Linked DNA regions of Homo sapiens. The protein of the gene in region 2 interacts with the protein of the main gene of each other region in a pairwise test. Each region holds a gene or a part of one and is shown on either strand. Other genes may lie near its edges. The genes, in order: MTAP and LYRM1.

Region 1 (3,301 bases), on a different chromosome or scaffold from region 2:
TACAAGAAAGGAAAATCACAGACCAATCTGTCTCATGAGCATAGATGCAAAAATCAAACAAAATATTTGCAAACCGAATCCAGCATTATATAAAGGGGATAACATATCATGACTAAGTATGGTTTATATCAGGAATGCAAGATCAGTTTAACATTAAAGAATCTACATTAACAAAATAAAAGAGAAAAGTCAAGATTCTCTCAACAGATGCAGGAAAAAGTACTTGGTGAAATTCAACATGCATTCATGACACTCTTGGCAAAATAGGAATAAAAGGGATCTTCAATCTGATAAAAACATGAAACGGAAAAAACCTATAGCTAACATATTTTAATAGTGAAAAACTAGACGCTATCCTCTGCTGTTGAGAATAAGACAAGAGTAACAACTCACACACCGCTTCTATTCAACATTAGGTTGAAGGTCCTAGCCATTACGACAAAGCAAGAAGAAACAAAAGGTAAACTGTTGTTATTCATATATGACATGATTGTGTACACAAGGTATCCCTAAGGCACTTGCAATAAAATAAAAATAAGAACTACTACTGAACTAAGTGAATTTAATAAGATTACAGAATATAAAGTCAATATACAAAAATAAAACATATTTCTGTATACCAGCAATAAACTTAAAAATGAAATTAAAGTACTATTTACAGTAACATTTCCACAAAATATTTAGGAATACATTTAACAAAAGATATATACAAGACTTCTTCACTAAAACTACAAAATATTGCTGAGATAAATTTTAAAAGGCCCAAATAAATGCAGAAACATACCATGTCCATCGATTGAAAGGTTCAATATTGTCAATTCTTCCCAAATCGACCTAAAAATTCAGTGCCATTCCAGCAGATTTTTTCTTAAAGAAAAATGGAGAAGCTTAATATAAACTTTATAAAGAAAGGACCTATAGCCAAAACAATCTTGGAAAAGATTGCAAAGCTTAACAATACTTAATTTCAAGACACCATAAAGCCACAATAATCAAGACAGTGGGGTACTGGCATAAGAAGAGACACATAGATAAATGACATAAATAGATCATCCAGATTCACAGATAAACAGTAAATTTTGACAAGGGCACACAGGTAATTAAATGAGTAGGCAAGGTAATTAAGTGAGTAGTCAAAATTAAATGATTTTGACAAGGGCACACAGGTAATTAAATGAGTAGGCAAAGATTTCTTGGAACACACAAAAAGCACCAACCATAAAAAAAATTGATAAACTAGGCTTCGTCAAAATGAAAAACTTGTTCTTTGAAAGACATAATTAAGAAAATGAAAAGGCAAGCTAAAGACTAAGAATAGTCACAACACACATATCTGAAAAAGAGTGTATCCAGAATATATAAACAATTCTTACTATTCAATAATAAAACAAAACAATCTAATTTTTTAATAAACAAAAATATTTGTACAGATAGTTCACGAAATATGTGAATGGCCAATAAGCACATGAAAAGAAGTTCAACATCTTTAATCAGAAAAATGCAAATCAAAACCACGAGATATCAAAATATACCCAATAGAATGGCTAAAATTAAAAACGCTGACAATACCAAGCTTTGTCAAGAATTCTTACAAATTACTGGTGGGAGTATAGGCATTTGCACAAGTGAAAATATGTTCACAAAAAGACTTGTAATTTCATGCTTATAGCAGCTTTATTCATAAAATTCCTCAAATGGAAAAAATTCAAACATTCATCAACAGGTGAATAGATAATCAAATTGTAAGATAGGCATATGACAGAATACTACTAGGCAATAAAAAAGGCACAAGCTACAGATGCATGCAACATGAGTGAATCTTCAAAACAAAGAAATAATGCATGCCGAGATTGTCTTTCTGAAGAAATTCCCCTCATTCTTTGGGATCCCGAGGTTCTCAAAGGCATAGCTGGCAACAGGCCCTGAAACAGCTTCTTCTGGACTACCCTACTAGTCTTGGTAGATTTCCTCGATCTTTGGCATTCCTTCTTTTCTTCCATGGTCTTCATTTACTGCTGTCCTTCTTGCCTATCTTGAATTATTCTATACTATTATGAGGAGAACACAGGTTCTTCCATCCTGGAACTTCAGTTCTTTGCCTTGCTGGGCCAATATATACATTGAGCCAGATTGTGTGCACACTGGTAGTTCCAAGGTGCAACAATCTTCAAAACATTTGAGGAGTGTATTAGTCCATTCTCATGCTGCTGTAAAGGACTGCCCATGACTGGGTAATTTATAAAGGAAAGAGGTTTAATTAACTCACAGTTCCACATAGCTGGGAAGGCCTCAGGAAACTTACAATCGTGGCAGAAGGGGAAACAAACACGTCCTTCTTCACATGATGGCAGGAAGAAGTGTTGAGCAAAAGGGGGAAAAGCCCCTTATAAAACAAACAGGACTTGTGAGAACTCAGTATCATGAGAACAGCAGTGTGGGGGTAACCACCCCCATGATTTAATTACCTCCCACTGGGTCCCTCCCACAACATGTGGGGATTATGGGAACTACAATTCAACATGAGATTTGGGTGGGGACACCGCCAAACCTTATCAAGGAGGGACTCTGCAAATGTGGCAAGAACTCCTCATTTCGTGACTTCCTAACCCATCAGATACTCCTTGAAACCTTATCAAATTGTTTCACTGGATAAGTGCTGGCTAAATGCTTGTTGAGAAAATTAAAAACATGTTCAGGCCACTGTCACAAGAATGAATAATTATTTGGAAAATAGGTGTTGGTGGGGCCACAACCATGCCCTGAGGTAGCAGCCAGAGAAGAGGCTCCAGGAGCATCCTGTGGATGCCAGAGCAGGCTCACGTGGCACCTGCAGGGCAGCTGGCTCAGGGCAGGTTGGAGGTCACCTTAGTCACTCCCTCTTCAAGGAAGTTCACTGTCCTCCACTCCTGAGGGTGCCACCGTACCAGAGTTTCCTTCCTTGAAACAAGCCATGGTAGCTACCTCCAGCCCTGCACAGCAACTCGTGCTAGCGAAGGGGGCAGTGAACAGGGGCCAGGTCACAAGGACCATGACCCTCGGGGACCACAGGGCCAGGATGTCATTCTCAAAACCATGAAAATCCATGCCAAATATAACAGCAGATTATAAGGCCAACAAAGACTTCTATGTACATGCAAATCTATTAATCACTAAGGGCTAAGTCACTAAACTACAGCTTTCCCATGATGCTCACCATCCATCCTTTGCGGAAACCAAAATGCTCACAACTGACCATGGTGTTCACTTAGTATACTAGCTTAAATTAAAAAAAAAAAATTAGTACAGCATCACAAGTGAGAAG
Region 2 (3,828 bases):
CTTTCAGAGGCTGAGGTGGGAGGATCCCTTGAGCCCAGGTGATAAAGGCTGCAGTGAGCTATGATCACGCCACTGCACTCAAGCCTGGGCAACAGAGTCAGACTCTATCTCAAAAAATGAAAATAAAAAAGATGAACATGAATGCAACAAGAGCCTTTGGGAAAGGGGCCACAGGTCCACAGAATCCAGCACAGGTTGGGGGTAGGCCTTGGAAAGGCACTTTGTTTCTGGTCTTAAGCGCAAAAGACACTGGTAGATTTTATGCAAGCTGGAGTAACACGGTCTGATTTATATCTTTTTAAATACACTGTATATCAAACTACTGTATATCATAACTACTTATAATTCCAACACTTGTACAGATGGTGAAACAAGATCTTGCCTAATGCCCCTAATTAGTTGACAGGAGTCAGGGTCAAGAGCCAAAAAAGCTGGATGATCATTTTCCTGACTGACCACAAGCTTTTCTATTTTGGAGTCAGTAATGGGGACTCATAATGGGCAGCGATCAGTCTAAAAAACAAAAACAAAAACCAAACACCAAACACCCACCCACTCTGCCACTCACTGTCCAAAGTGCAGTGAGAGGGTCTGGGGAGGTTCCAAGAACTTACTGTACAAGGCATACCCAGACACTTGGTGTTTCTACAGGAGGACTATGGAAAGATCTGCTGGTATGAGGGGCCTCATCCACTGTGCCCTTTTACCCCACCTCTGGAACAGTTCCTCTGCCTTTGGAAAGACCATTGCAGCATGAACACTTAGGAATTTAAGAGCAGAGATGAAAATTCCCTTTCCCCAGCTGAGATTTATAGAAGTATGACTCTGGTCTCAGGAATGTCCAAATTCCAAATGCTGGACTCTCATGAGGCTTTGCCTTCTAAAGAAAATGTGTTGCAGTACAAATAAGAAATGGGACAAAGGCAAGAGGAATTTACCCTGATTTTCAAGCCCCAGGAAGTTAAACACCCCTTTCCATTTATTTCAGGAAAGACCTACCCCTAGGTGGAATTTTTTCCCTCATCAGAACTCATGACCGTAGTATAGTCAAATTTCTCTCCCAAGTACTTTATGATTTTTTAGCAAGGAGGGGGAATCATAAACTCCACCCAAATGAGATCATGGTCTTCTGTATGTGCAATGTCCCTCTTTTTGCCATAGGAAGCCTCTCTACTTCATACAACTGAAATACCCTTTCTTTGCCTATTTGCTGCTTCCACCTTTTGACTTCCATCACTTCTGGACGGGTGCCCTTTTCACACTGGGGCTGGGTCAGTGTCCCGGCTATGTGCACTCCTGGCACCTCTGGCATACCCCTGTCATAATGTTCATCCTACTCTATCATAATTTTGCATGACTTACCTTTCTTTTTCCACCATGTGTGTGTTGCAGGGAGTAGGAGGTGGGGAGAGCAGGGGGAGATTTGGGACTGTCTTGTACATTACATGCCTAGGCTGGCACATAGTTGGAACATGACAAATATGTATTAGAAGAATAAATTTACACACACAGAATGGTCATTGATAACGTATGTTCTCATCCTGAGATACACACGATGGTATCTGGACAAGCTTCCCAACTGATGATCCCAGAGCATTGAAGGGTTAAATACTAATTAACCCTTACTAGGATGCTTTCAAGAGCAGTGTGTGTCAGGATAAAGAACTGGAGACTCAGTGTTACTTGGGGAGGAATCCTCATCAGTTTCATCCAGAACAGCGTAAGAGACACAGCTATGATGTAACCCTCACTCTTAAGTTTTCTTAAGGCTGGTTAGGGTTTGTCCACTGGACTGAAATACCTTATAATATTTCCATGAAGTTTAGAACCAAACATAGAAGAATGGGGTTCTGATACTTTTTTCCTGAAAAAATCCTTTTGGGGAATAAGGTCCACTATACTCAATGATCATGGGTTAAAATCAATCTAGAAAACTGTGACTTAAAACTATCATTTGGAAAACCTCTACAGAATTGAAATGCTCTTGCTAATGTCAGAGCAACCAGATGTTCTTGCCCTGTATAGCAGAGTAGGGAATGTCTGTCCCATTTGTAAGGAATAGCAGATATAATACAAAATAAATGAACATTTATTTTGGGCTCTGGGCGGACAAGGCTGGGTTTGAATCTTGACTTTACCCCATTGGGCAAATTATTAACTGCCTGAGACTTGGTTTCTTAGAATGTACAATGGGGTAATAGCAGAACCCCTTTCAGAGTCGTAAGGATTATTCATGAAATAATCCATGTAACATCACTTAGCACTGAGAGTTAACAAAGGCAAATGTTACCTGAATAGGAGGAAACAGAGGAAGAACAACGAGGTCTCTTTTATCTATGCTAAGCTTTGTCTGAATAGGAGAGAAATGTGTGGCCTGTTGGTGAATTTATTGCTTTGTGGTAGTAATGGATTTTCCTAAAGCTGTTTCCCTCTGATCATTAATAATCCCTGTACAGCAAAGGACTATTGTTCTTTGGTATGAGTAAATAACCCTGTTGGAAGCACCGCTTATCTTCAGACCACAGCGCATACTTCTTACTGGAAATATAATGCAGGTGCCAACACCAAAGGCATGACCAGGCTTCCCTTCCTATTTTTCTTCCTTTATCTCTTACTCCTTGTTTATCCCTCAGGGCACTTTTCTCTTAGATCTGTTATACTCCCTCCTTTTTGGTGTACACCCATATTCTTACCCCAATCCAATAACCTTTAAGTGAAATTGTTCTCCATACATTTCTGGTCCCATATCCTCCTATCAATTAAACACACACACACACACACACACACACACACACACAACCACAGACTTATTTCCTGTTTCAGATTCAGTTTTTGGTTACTAGAATCCAAAAAGGGAAGTGTAATGCCTCACATGCCACACACTGTTTTGCAAATTTCAGGATATGCTTGTGTGGTATACTTAATCATACCGCAGCTATTTTATGAAACAGCATCTTTTTACACAGAAAATGATAAGAATATGGTCTGTCAGCAATAGGGGGCAGGGAGGAGAGGGTGGATGGCATTTTTATTTTACCTAAGGGAAAATAATTTAGTTTAGGCCCTGTAATATGGGAAGTTTTTAGAACACGGGGCCAAAACAAAAAATGTCTGAAAGACTTCTAAAATGTCTATCCCAAACAAGATCACAGGAGGCAAGCACACCCATTCTAAATATATCATACCAGCACCGGAGCGCACACAAGATTATATTTGTACAGGGGAACTCCAATCAGGCTACTGTAACCAAGATAACAACCAATAGATATACAGCTATTTTTCCCATCAGGGATAGAAGTTCTAAATGAAAAGTTATGGGCCCCTCAATTCAAAAGAAATGGAAGTATGTTTCCTTATTAGCATATTTTAACAGGCAAAGAAAAGGTACGGGTCAGTCAGAGGTGGTGAAAAAGCAGTCACCAGTTACTAGTAGTAGAAGGCAGTGGAAGAGATGTGGTGGGGGGGCTGGAATTGAAGGCCAATGCTAAAGATCATTCATTCATTCATTCATTCATTCATTCATAACTCCCCAGCCAGGATCTTTCACCCTTCATATCAAATCGAAAAGTCTGAGAACACAAGACACTGACTTAAGTTCTTGCTTTGTTATAGTTTTCTGAGGAACTGGATTAGGAAACTGACCAAAGAGCTTTGCATGCCACACTAGATACAGTTGGGGCTTTCTAGCACCTGACCCTTGATCCAACTCTCTGATAAATAACCACATTCTGTGCAGGGGTCCAGGCCTTCAGGACAGCTTCCTCCACCATCAAATAACTACTGAATGCGCAACTTTCCCATCTGCAGAGGCACCAGAGCTCCTCAGTA

Evidence for each region.
Region 1: the proteins of LYRM1 (region 2) and MTAP interact in a two-hybrid assay, tested with the Homo sapiens proteins (one large-scale study listed by BioGRID and IntAct).

What each region holds. Positions count from the first base shown.
Region 1 is NC_000009.12:21,864,326-21,867,626, reverse strand, and holds the end of MTAP (S-methyl-5'-thioadenosine phosphorylase), read right to left. Parts: 3' UTR 546-3,301; downstream 1-545. UniProt on the Homo sapiens protein: Catalyzes the reversible phosphorylation of S-methyl-5'-thioadenosine (MTA) to adenine and 5-methylthioribose-1-phosphate. Involved in the breakdown of MTA, a major by-product of polyamine biosynthesis.
Region 2 is NC_000016.10:20,903,662-20,907,489, reverse strand, and holds part of LYRM1 (LYR motif-containing protein 1), read right to left. Parts: intron 1-3,828. UniProt on the Homo sapiens protein: May promote cell proliferation and inhibition of apoptosis of preadipocytes.